Homo sapiens: one gene and its partners. The protein of the gene in region 2 purifies or fractionates together with the protein of the main gene of each other region. This does not show direct contact. Each region holds a gene or a part of one and is shown on either strand. Other genes may lie near its edges.

Region 1 (3,648 bases), on a different chromosome or scaffold from region 2:
TGGGAGCTGTCTTTAAAACCCTTTAGAGTCAAGCAAATTCTGCATATTAAGAGGCATAATAAATGTTCAACAGATAAATAATTTCAGACTCAAAGATCTCAGTGTACTTTTCCATTTTGATGCTCCCACTTATTCTCCAACCACTGCTGAGCAAGAAAAAGGTAAGAGAGATGCTTAGAAAGACACAGATCTGGGAGTTGGGCCAATGTTACTGGAGCACCTGCTTCCCCATTCATCCACCTGCCCGTCAGTGACTGAGTGCCCACTGTGGCTAGGCCCCAAGCTGGGAGAGTGGAGCACCCCAGGGACTGGGAGAGATGTGGGCTTTGCCCTCATGGAGTGCACGGTCTAGTGGGGTGGGGCAGGGAGGGAATTTAACAAGCAGCTAAGTGCTACATTTAGAGGATGTCCCGACACCATGGGGTCCCAGAGAAGGGCACTAACTCCAGCTGAAGGACTGGAGCAGCTTCTCAGAGGAACTGACTCCCACAAGAAGACCTGAAGGATGAGCAGGAGTTATCCCCGAGAAGCATGATGTGGAGGAAGTGTTCTTTATTTTTTGGAGACAGAGTCTTACTCTTTCACCCATGCTGGTGTGCAGTGGCATGATTTTGGCTCACTTCAGCTTGGACCTCCCAGGCTCAGGTGATCTTCCCACCTTAGCCTCCTGAGTAGCTGGGACTACAGGCACATGCAACCACACCTGGCTTTTTTTTTGTAGAGCTGGGGTTTCACCATGTTGCCCAGGCCCAAGCCAGTCACAAACTCCTGGGCTGAAGCAACCTGCCCACCTTGGCCTCCCAAGGAAGGTTGTTCTGAGTCTAGAGAGAGCACGTGCAAAGGCCCAGAGGCAAGAGTGGAGGCATGTGACAAACAGAAAGAAGTTCCAGTTGGGCTGGAGTGTACCATGAAGAGGAAGCAGGGGCCAGAAGGGAACTTGAACGGTACGGCTACAGAAAAGAGCCGGGACCAAATCATGCAGGGTTTGTAAACCTCATTAAAAAGTCTGCACTTGATTAGTCACTGAAAGCTTTTTAACCAGGAGGGATGTGATCAGATGTGCACTTTTGTGGGGTTTTTTTGGTTTTTGTTTTTGAGACAGAGTCTCACTCTGTCACCTAGGCTGGAGTGCAGTGGCGTGATCTTGGCTCACTGCAACCTCTGCCTCCTGGGTTCAAGTGATTCTCCCGCCTCAGCCTCCTGAGTAGCTGGGATTACAGGTGCATGCCACTACGCCCGGCTAATTTTTGTATTTTTAGTAGAGATGGGGTTTCCCCATGTTGGCCAGGCTGGTTTCAAACTCCTTACCTCAGGTGATCTGCCCGCCTCGGCCTCCCAAAGTGCTGGGATTACAGGCATGAGCCACCATGTTCAGCCCAGATGTGCACTTTTCAACGATCATTCTGGCTGCAATGTTTTTTTTTTTTTTTTTTTTTTTTTGAGATGGAGTTTTGCTCTGTCACCCAGGCCGGAGTACAGTGGTGTGATCTCGGCTCACCACAACCTCCGCCTCCCAGATTCAAGTGATTCTCCTGCCTCAGCCTCCCAAGTAGATGGAATTACAGCTAATTTTTGTATTTTTAGTAAAGACGGGGTTTCTATCCACTACCACGCCCAGCTAATTTTTGTATTTTTAGTAGAGATGGGGTTTCACCATGTCGGCCAGGCTGGTCTTGAACTCTTGACCTCAGGTGATCCACCTGCCTTGTCCTCCCAAAGTGCTGGGATTACAGGTGTGAGCCACCATGCCCGGCCTCTGGCTGCAATTTGCACAGCAGTGTGACCTTACAGTAGAGTATTCGCCCTTCCTGGGCCTCGGTTTTGTAATTTATAAAGTGAGGATAACCTACTCCCTGCTGGGCTATTGTGAGGTTTCAATTATTATAGATAATACACACACAATGCCTGGAACCACTGATATTAGAGATGTGATGTTGGAAACATAGAAGCCTAGGTAATTCTCCAGGGATGTGTGAAGAGCTAGTGATAAAGCCAGGACTCAACTGACCTCCACAAACCCGTTAGTGTCCTGTCCTGCTAGATTCCTTTAGCATGATAGCAGTGGTGCTATCATGGCTCACTGCAGCCTCAAACTCCTGGTCTCAAGCCATCCTCTGCCTCAGTCTCCCAAGTTGCTAGGACTACAGGCGCATGCTATCATGGCTAGCTGGTAAACTGACCCAAAATTCAGGTTTGAGAGAAAGTACTTCCTAGGATTTCTTCTGACCACACTTATTTGGGAAAAGATGTCTAGGTGTGGAGCTCAGGCTGCCCCCACCCAGGATAAGAAGTTTGTGGCAGGAGGACCACTTGAGTCAGAGTCTAGCCCCATTCCAGAACGGTACAGAGGAAAGGATACCAATGTGCTCTGACTCACCCCCGCACAGAAATATTGGCTGACTGCGCTGCCTTCAGGATTGCGTCAAACCTCTGAAAACTCTCCTCTATGGAACAATTGATGTTCTTCTTGGTGAAGAGCTCTGAGGCAGCTCCAAAGATGACTACTTCCTTGGCTCCAGCAGCAACCTGCCAACATCCAGGTGAACTCCTTTCAGCACTTTTCTCTTTTTTTGTTTGAGATGGAGTCTTGCTTTGTTGCCCAGGCTGGAGTGCAGTGGCATGATCTCGGCTCACTGCAACCTCCACCTCCTGGGTTCAAGCGATTCTCCTGCCTCAGCCTCCTGAGTAGCTGGGATTACAGGAGCCCACCACCACGCCCGGCTAATTTTTGTATTTTTAGTAGAGACAGCGTTTCACCATGTTGGTCAGGCTGGTTTCGAACTCCTGACCTTGTGATCCACCCACCTCAGCCTCCCAAAGTGCTGAGATTACAGGTGTCAGCCATCATGCCCGGCCAGCACTTTTCTCTTTAAAGAACACTGACACAGAGTAGCAAAAAATTTCTCTTAAGGTAAATTTTATGTTATGTGAATGTTATGGGTTGAATTGTGTCCTCCTAAAAATATATGTTGAAGGATTAAAACCCAGCACCTCAGAATGTGACCTTATTTGGAAACAGCGTCATTGCAGATATCATTAGTTAAGATGAAGCCATACTGGAATAGGGTGGGCCCCTAATCCCATACGACTGGTGACCTTAAAAAAAGATGGCCAGCCGGGCGCAGTGGCTCACGCTTGTAATCACAGCACTTTGGGAGGCCGAGGCGGGCAGATCATGAGGTCAGGAGATCGAGACCATCCTGGCTAACACAGTGAAACCCCATCTCTACTAAAAATACAAAAAATTAGCCGGTCGTGGTGGCACACGCCTGTAGTCCCAGCTACTCGGGAGGCTGAGGTGGGAGAATCACTTGAACCTGGGAGGTGGAGCTTGCAGTGAGCCGAGATCATGCCACTGTACTCCAGCCTGGGCGACAGAGCAAGACTCTGTCTAAAAAAAACAAAAACAAAAGATGGCCAAGTGAAGACACAGAGACACAGAAAAGGTGGCCCTGGGAAAACGGAGGCAAAGACTGGAGAGATGCATCTACAAGCCAGGCAATGCCAAGGACTGCTGGCCACCACCAGACCCCAGCAGAGAGGCATAGGACAGATTCTCCCAGAGGCCTCAGAAGGAACCAATCCTGCTGACACCTTGATTTGGGACTTCTGGCCTCCAGACTGTGAGAGAATAAATTTCTGTTGTTT
Region 2 (3,648 bases):
CTCCACTTCTTTATTCACCTTGCAATCTTTCCCGTCCACGGCAAACGTGCTCCTACCGGGAGACAAAAGGCCTCCTCAGACAGCCTCACAACCAGGGTCTATTCCTGGGGGGCTTCCTAGGCACAGCTCCAGACCCTCAGTCAGCTGCAGCAAGGGACATGGGCATGGCTGCACATATGCGCGTTTGATGTGAACATATTTTCCTGTTTTTTAAACAGAAATAAGCATAGGAAGCAGGAGGATCAGGAAGTGGTGCAGCAGGAGGCCACCAGGGCGAGAGGGCCCACGCCCTGGAACCTTCCGGAGCAGCTGGCAGAACCCGGGCTGCGGTGCTGAGACTCAGACGCTGGTTTCCGGCTCCTAACTCCCGTGCTGCTTGTTAGCTTTCTGTTACGACGTTGGCTGTGTCGGGCCTCGGGCAGCCTCTGACCTTCCCGCCTGCCCTTTACCTGCCCCAAAGCAGGACTCTAATGTTCCCCGCCTTTCTGACTGTGGGTCTCAGGACCCTCTCCTGAGAGGGTCCCCCACTCCCCGGGGGAGAATGCTGACGTCATGTTTCCCTGAGCACTGTGAGCCACGCCAGCAAACGGGGTTGTGGGAACCCCAACTTGAAGCCAATTGGTCAGTTCCAGAGGCTCAGACAGTTTACCGGTATGTGTCAGAGGGCAGTTTTGGGGACGGAGCCCTCAACCCGTGCGATCGGACGCTACCCCGGGTCCATACTGTTGGAACTGAATTAGAAGGCAGCAGCGACCCCTGCGTGGTGCATGGGGAAGACCCTTCACACCCACCTTCTGTGTGGACAACTGTTGTGGTGGGAGGAGGAGAAACACGGTGTGAGAGTTTTTCCTTAAAACAAAGGGGCAGCAGGAAACTCCAGGAGTTCCCAAAAAAAGAAACGCAGTCGGCCTCCAGGCATACCAAGCACTCTTGCTTCGATGACCGTGAAAGAAACGCCAGTTTACCTGCGACACCAGCATCCACACCTCAGGCCGAGGAGCAGGAGCTGTGGAGGGCACGCGGGGCAGGGGAGGTCTCTCCACACTGCCCATGGGGCGTGTGATCTGGCAATGCCACCAAATCTACAAGTGGACACACCTTCCCACGAACCCACCCCTGGGCTCTACGCCACCCTCACGCACCCCAGTCCTCTGCCCCAGCATTTTCCACATGGCTTTGCTGGCAGAGTGCTGGGAATCTTCTGGAGGCAGTGGGTGTTCGCCGTCCCCATGGGTGACTGTCTCAGAGGGTGCAGAGTGGCCACGGCTGCAGCTCATTAGAGCGCGCCGCACCATGGACACGCAGGGCAGGCTCACCCAGAACGCTCTGGACAGGTCAGTGAAAATGGGAGCTTCGCCCAGGGGACGTGGGCTCAGACACACGGGCACATCAGTCCCAGGGCCCATCAACACCTTGAAAGCCAAGGCCAAGACCCACTGACCCTGAGAACCACCACACACCTCACGCCTGTGCCTCTGGGTTGGCAAAATGTGGAGGAGCCATGCCAGGGCACGGAGCCCCCAGCACACCCTCCAGCTGCCCCTGCGCCCCGCCACACACGGTGTCAGTGGTCAGAGCCTCGTGGAGACGGCAGCGACGCAGGGACAACTGGACAAAAGATCGAGCCTGACGTGGGGCTGCGTGAGGTCAGGGGTGTGGGCGGCACCGACGAGGCTTGCTGGCTTTCAGGAGACCGGGGACGACAGGCTGGGGTGGGGCTTCCGGTGAGAGAGGGGTGAGGGCACGGCCAAGGGCACTGAGAAAACAGCTGGCATCTGAGGAAGGAGGCCTCTGAGGTTTCGGGATAAGGAGGGGCGCATTCTTCGGATGGAGACTGCCTACCCCTCGACTCTGGGTGCAGGCTGCCCAGGGTGGGGCAAGCGGCCAGCCAGCCTCCAACCTGCCCTTGAAACAGGAGCTGCCGACCGGGGCCGGCCGTGCTGGGGCTGCCACCCACACCATGGCACAGAAGCCACCTGCACGCTCCGATGCACTGTGGCCAGTGCTCCTGCAGGTGGCAGAGCTGTCCCTGGAGGGTCAGCCTGGCACCACCTCCACCTCTCAGGCAGGGCCATGGGGGCGGTGCCCAGAGAACCTCCATGAATGTGCAAAGAGAGAGAGGAGACACAGAGAACAGAAAGAGGATCTGGAACTCAAGGACGCCACCGTGTGGGAGCCAGCCAGGCCTCCATGATTCACGGTCCAGCTACCAAAACAGCCACGCCAAGGCGGCCTCCCTTCTTCCTGTCAGGACCGCCGCCCAAACTACCAAGAAGGAAACCCATTTCTGATCCTGCAAGGTTCCATAAGAGAATTGGGGCCAGGCGCGGTGGCTCAGGCCTGGAATCCCAGCACTTTGGGAGGCAGGAGGGTTACTCGAGCCCAGAAGTTCCAGACCAATTTGGGCTACATACATGGCCAAAAAAAAAAAAAAACAAAACCATGGGCATGGTGACATGCGCCTATAGTCTCGGCTACTCAGGAGGATGAGGCTGGAGGATGGCTTGAGCCCAGGAGATCATGGCTGCAGTGAACTAGGATCGTGCCACTGCATCCCTGCCTGGGCAACAGACCAAGACCTCATCTCTACAGAAAAAAAAAAAAAAAAAGAGAGAGAGAGAGAAAAAAAACTGGCACTTGCAAGGAGTAAATACTCAGAGACTGATTTCAACGTGACGAGACCTACAGCACAGTGATGAGATAAGAGGGAGCCCCAAACCCACTCTGACAAGCTGCTGGGTACCAGGAATGCTGAGAGAAGAGGCAGCAGAGAAGCAGAAACAAAAGCATGGCTCGCTACAACGCTACCTAAGACCCAACCCTAAGAACAGCTCCCAAGTCAGAGGGCAGGCACGTGCCCTGCCCAGACCCTAAACCCAGAGACTGCTCCTATCACCACCCCCTCCCATCGCCGCTCCACTGACCACATTGGACAGCAGACAGGTGCACCCCCTTCCCATCTGCTCCACATGGAAAGCGGAAGACCTTGGAGCTCAAATACGCACAGGTTTTTAGCCGCTCCAAAGCCTCCTGGAAAGATGGCAGCATCATGGTTGGCTGCACTGAGGTTGGCCAGGTCTGTGATTTTGCCACGGGCGATCCTCGCAGACTCGGTCAAAACATTCCTGGGAAAGAGCACAGGGCAAAAAGCCTCAGCATGCAGGTGAAGGACTGTGGAGCGCGGCAGGGGCACAGCCCACAGGCAACACGCTCCACACACGTGGCTCTCAGCCACACGGGGACTTACTTCCAGGTCAGCATGTTTGGTCACTACCTGGAAAGACAACATGGTTCTAGCAACGCTAAATCTATGCTGGGCTCTTCCGATCAGCACTTCAGAACCTGCGCCAAATCACTCTGAATCTTCTGCAGTCAAGGCCCATGGGAAATGGAAGTCTCTCCGAGTGTCTAAAGCAGACAGAATTCTGTGCACTCATCAGGACGGTGGGACTCAGAGGGGAAGGTAAGAAGCCAGGACTCAGGACCAGTGAAGCAACCCGAAGGCCAGCCACCGCAGGAAGCTGCTAGCCCCCAGGTGTGGGGGCCGAAGGTGCAAGTCCAGGTGCAGAAGCCAGGGTCCCAGGCAGGAAAAGAAATCACAGGGGTCCCCACTGGTGAGAAGCACAGCCCCAGGAGGCAGCTATGGCT
Region 3 (3,648 bases), on a different chromosome or scaffold from region 2:
GGGTAAATGAAACATAAGTGAATTTCATGTTTGCACTTGAGTCCTGTCCTCAAGATATCTCCTTTGTATATGCAAATATTCCATAATCCAAAAAAATCTTAAATCCAAAAACGCTTCTGGTCCCAAGCATTTCAGGTAACGGATACTTAAACTGTAGAGACTTTCTGGAGAACATATGACAACATGAACCAACATTTATAAAAATTCGTGTTAAGGAACTAAGTGCAGAAGTATGTAGGGATACACAGGGATGTTGAGTACACACTGTTTATAAGTTTGAGAAACTGCAAATAATCATGATGTTTATAAATAGGTCACTGGCTAAATAAATAACAAAGCTATACTTGTTGACAATGATGTCTACAATATAGTAAATGAAAATGAAGAGGCTGGGCACAGTGGCTCATGCCTGTAACCCAGCACTTTGGGAGGCTGAGGTGGGTGGATCACTTGAGCCCAGGAGTTAGAGACCAGCCTGGGCAACATGGCAAGACCCCATTTCTACAAAAAAAAAAAAAAAGTACAAAAATTAGCTGGGCATGGTGGCACGTGCCTATAGTCCCAGCTACTCAGAAGGCTGCGGTGGGAGGTGGACACTGCAGTGAGGCGATGATTACACCACAGCATAGATATTCTCTATGGGGAATACTTTAGATAGGCAACAGAGCAAGACTCTGTATCAAAAAAAAAAAAAAAAGAAAAAGAAAAAAGCAAGTTAAAGAAAATATAAATAATTCTATATCTTGTAAAAAGTATGTAAAAATGAAATCCTAGAAAGATGTATATCTCAACATAAACAGTGAGCTATCTTAGGGTCATGGAATTGAGGGTAAACATCTTTGTTTTCTTTTTTCTTTTCTTTTCTTTTCTTTTTTTTTTTTTGACAAAGGCAGGGTTTCACTTTGTCACCTAGGCTGGAGTGCAGTGGCATGATCACAACTCACTGCAACCTCCATCTCCCAGGTATCATATGATTCTCCTGCCTCAGCCTCCCAAGCAGCTAAAACTATAGGCATGCACCACCATGCCTGGCTAATTTTTTTTTTCTGTAGAGATGGGGCCTCCTAACTTTGTTGCCCATGCTGGTCTTGAATTCCTAGGCTCAAGCCATCCTCCTACCTCTGTCCCCCAAAGTGCTGGGATTACAGGCAGGAGCCACCACACCCGGCCAACATCATTTTCTTGCCTGAAATTTTTTTAATAAGTATATACTTAATCAGGAGATATTAAAATTAAAATTAATACAGCTGACTGTATTAACCGTATGGGAGCTGACCTCCCAGAATATCTAAGCTCACTTTCTGGTTGTACATGTCTTTTCTTTTTTTTCTTTTTTTAATTCTCTTTTTGAAATGGAGTTTTGCTCTTGTCGCCCACGCTGGAGTGCAGTGGCACAATCTTGGCTCACTGCAACCTCCGCCTCCTGGGTTCAAGCAATTCTCCCACCTCAGCCTCCTGAGTAGTTGGGACTATAGGCGCTGGCCACCACGGCTGGCTAATTTTTGTATTTTTAGTAGAGACAGGGTTTCACCATGTTGGCCAGGCTGGTCTCAAACTCCTGACCTCACATGATCCACCCGCCTCAGCCTCCCAAAGTGCTGGGATTATAGGCGTGAGCCACCGTGCCCAGCCTCTGGTTGTGCACTTCTAATGATAAGTAAACTTCAGGAAAGGCATCTCAAAAAGAGTTTTCGGTCTTAAGAAACTTTCACTACTCACAGAAGAGTTTACTCAAATTGAATTCAAACTTTTATTATTTTTCTCACTTAAATTATTCTTAATATTAAAATTCCAGGAATTTGCCAGGCACAGTGGTTCATGCCTGTAATCCCAGCACTTTGGGAGGCTGAGGCAGGAGGATTGCTTAGACCAGAAGTTCAAGACCAGCCTGGGCAACATAATGAGACCACGTCTCTACAAAAAATTTAAAAATTAGTTGGGCATAGTGGCGCATGCCTATAGTCCCAGCTACACAGGAGGCTGGGGCAGAAGGATTGCTTGGGCCTGAGAGGTTGAGGCTGCAGTGAGCCACAATCACAACACTGCATTCCAAACTGGTGACAGAGTGAGACTCTGCCAATAATAATAATAATAATAAGAAGAAGAAGAAGAAGAAGAATAAGAATAATAATATTAAAATTCCAGGAATTCAATTTTGAAAGAGCTGCTTCTTTTTGAGAGGGTAAGTAGAGTGGGTAACATAATCTGCCATACAGCTATGTATTTCCATTATTTTAAGCAGGAAAAAAAAAAGCTTAAAAATAGTTTTAAGAATCTCTAAACAGTATTATTAACACAAAAACAACAACAATGAATTAGACTTAAGTTTAATGTTTTACCCCATACCTTTAATTCTAGTCTAAAAAAGATCACTATTTGAGGTACAATAGAAGTCTCTAATCTACAAGCACATTTGCCCCATCTTCTATTAATAATAAGAACATTTTTACTCTGCATAGCCAACCTTATATGTTATATTCTGGCAGTTTTCATCCACAGAAGCGTTAAGGATAGGAAACTGTAGTAATCCCAAGGAAGCAGCCTGTTTAACAGAAAAAGAATGCAATTTTAGTACTTTTAACTTAGAAAGGATAGAGAATTTGAAACAATAAGAGGTATAAAAGGAGGGAGAGAGAGAACTCTTATTTATGCTGAGTTTAATTTCAAGTCTACATGTACCTAGTCACATTACTGCCAATGTTACCTTCAGGCCATGTGGAACTAGGTCACCCTAATCATTAAAGAATAAAAGATAAAGTAGTCAGGTAGCTTGTAAACATCAAGGAGATTTTCAAAATAATGATACAGACCAGCCAAAGTTCCAAAGAAAATGTCTAAATTCTAGGTGATTTCCTCACTGACATGTTGATCTTAAGATTTCCATGAGAAGTAATACTAGGAATCAAAACACAAAAAAAGCAGGTAAGCTATTTCTCTGTGTGGAAAGAACACGTAACGAGGATTTCAAAGCGCACTGACCAGTAGATGCCAGTTTGCTACTTGGTGTCCTTGGCCAGCTGAAGGGCAGAGATGTCCTGAACATTTACTTTACAGCTCAAGTCTCACTGAATAGCATTTATATTTTCCCTCTCTGCTGCCTTCTCCCTTTTGTCACTTAATACCATTTCTCTCCTGTCCATATTCAGATTTCCCTAACTGTACCCAAAATGTTCTTGATAATCTGTTTTTGGGATCTAATAATCAAGTTTCATACCTTACATGTGGTGGCCATGCATTGTATTGAATTTAAAAGATAGCAAAATAAAAATGCTTAAGATCATTCTTAAAAAGAATTCCCTCCCCCACTGCCCTTGTCTGGTCCCTGTTAAAGTTCTTTACATGCATTGTGTTATTCTTCTCAGTGCATCGGGGTCTTGATGGGAAAAAAATCAAATTCTTGAACTAGAGAGTTAAGAAAAAAGTTTAAATATATAGAGACATTTCATTTTCATTAGTTAGGACAGGTTAAGAGAGTAGATCAACTGAAGAAAAATATAATTAAAAGAACTGCTACGAGTTCCTTAATTTTTATGACTTGGAAGTTTTTCTTGTTTGTTTTTGAGACAGGGTCTTTCTTTGTCACCTAGGCTGCAGTGCAGTGGCATGATCTCAGCTCACTGTAGCCTCAACGTCCTTGGCTCGAGTGAC

What was found.
Region 1: the proteins of GATD3 (region 2) and HMGCL fractionate together in Homo sapiens (co-fractionation; one large-scale study listed by BioGRID). This does not show direct contact.
Region 3: the proteins of GATD3 (region 2) and DBT purify together in Homo sapiens (affinity purification with mass spectrometry; 2 studies listed by BioGRID and IntAct, with this or other methods). This does not show direct contact.

Annotation. Positions count from the first base shown.
Region 1 is NC_000001.11:23,811,813-23,815,460, forward strand, and holds part of HMGCL (hydroxymethylglutaryl-CoA lyase, mitochondrial isoform 1 precursor), read right to left. Parts: intron 2,527-3,648; coding exon 2,378-2,526; intron 1-2,377. UniProt on the Homo sapiens protein: Mitochondrial 3-hydroxy-3-methylglutaryl-CoA lyase that catalyzes a cation-dependent cleavage of (S)-3-hydroxy-3-methylglutaryl-CoA into acetyl-CoA and acetoacetate, a key step in ketogenesis. Terminal step in leucine catabolism.
Region 2 is NC_000021.9:44,136,654-44,140,301, reverse strand, and holds part of GATD3 (glutamine amidotransferase-like class 1 domain-containing protein 3, mitochondrial isoform 1 precursor), read right to left. Parts: intron 3,126-3,648; coding exon 3,006-3,125; intron 53-3,005; coding exon 1-52.
Region 3 is NC_000001.11:100,208,230-100,211,877, forward strand, and holds part of DBT (lipoamide acyltransferase component of branched-chain alpha-keto acid dehydrogenase complex, mitochondrial isoform 1 precursor), read right to left. Parts: intron 2,896-3,648; exon of another isoform or gene 2,811-2,895; intron 2,543-2,810; coding exon 2,465-2,542; exon of another isoform or gene 2,464-2,464; intron 1-2,463. UniProt on the Homo sapiens protein: The branched-chain alpha-keto dehydrogenase complex catalyzes the overall conversion of alpha-keto acids to acyl-CoA and CO(2).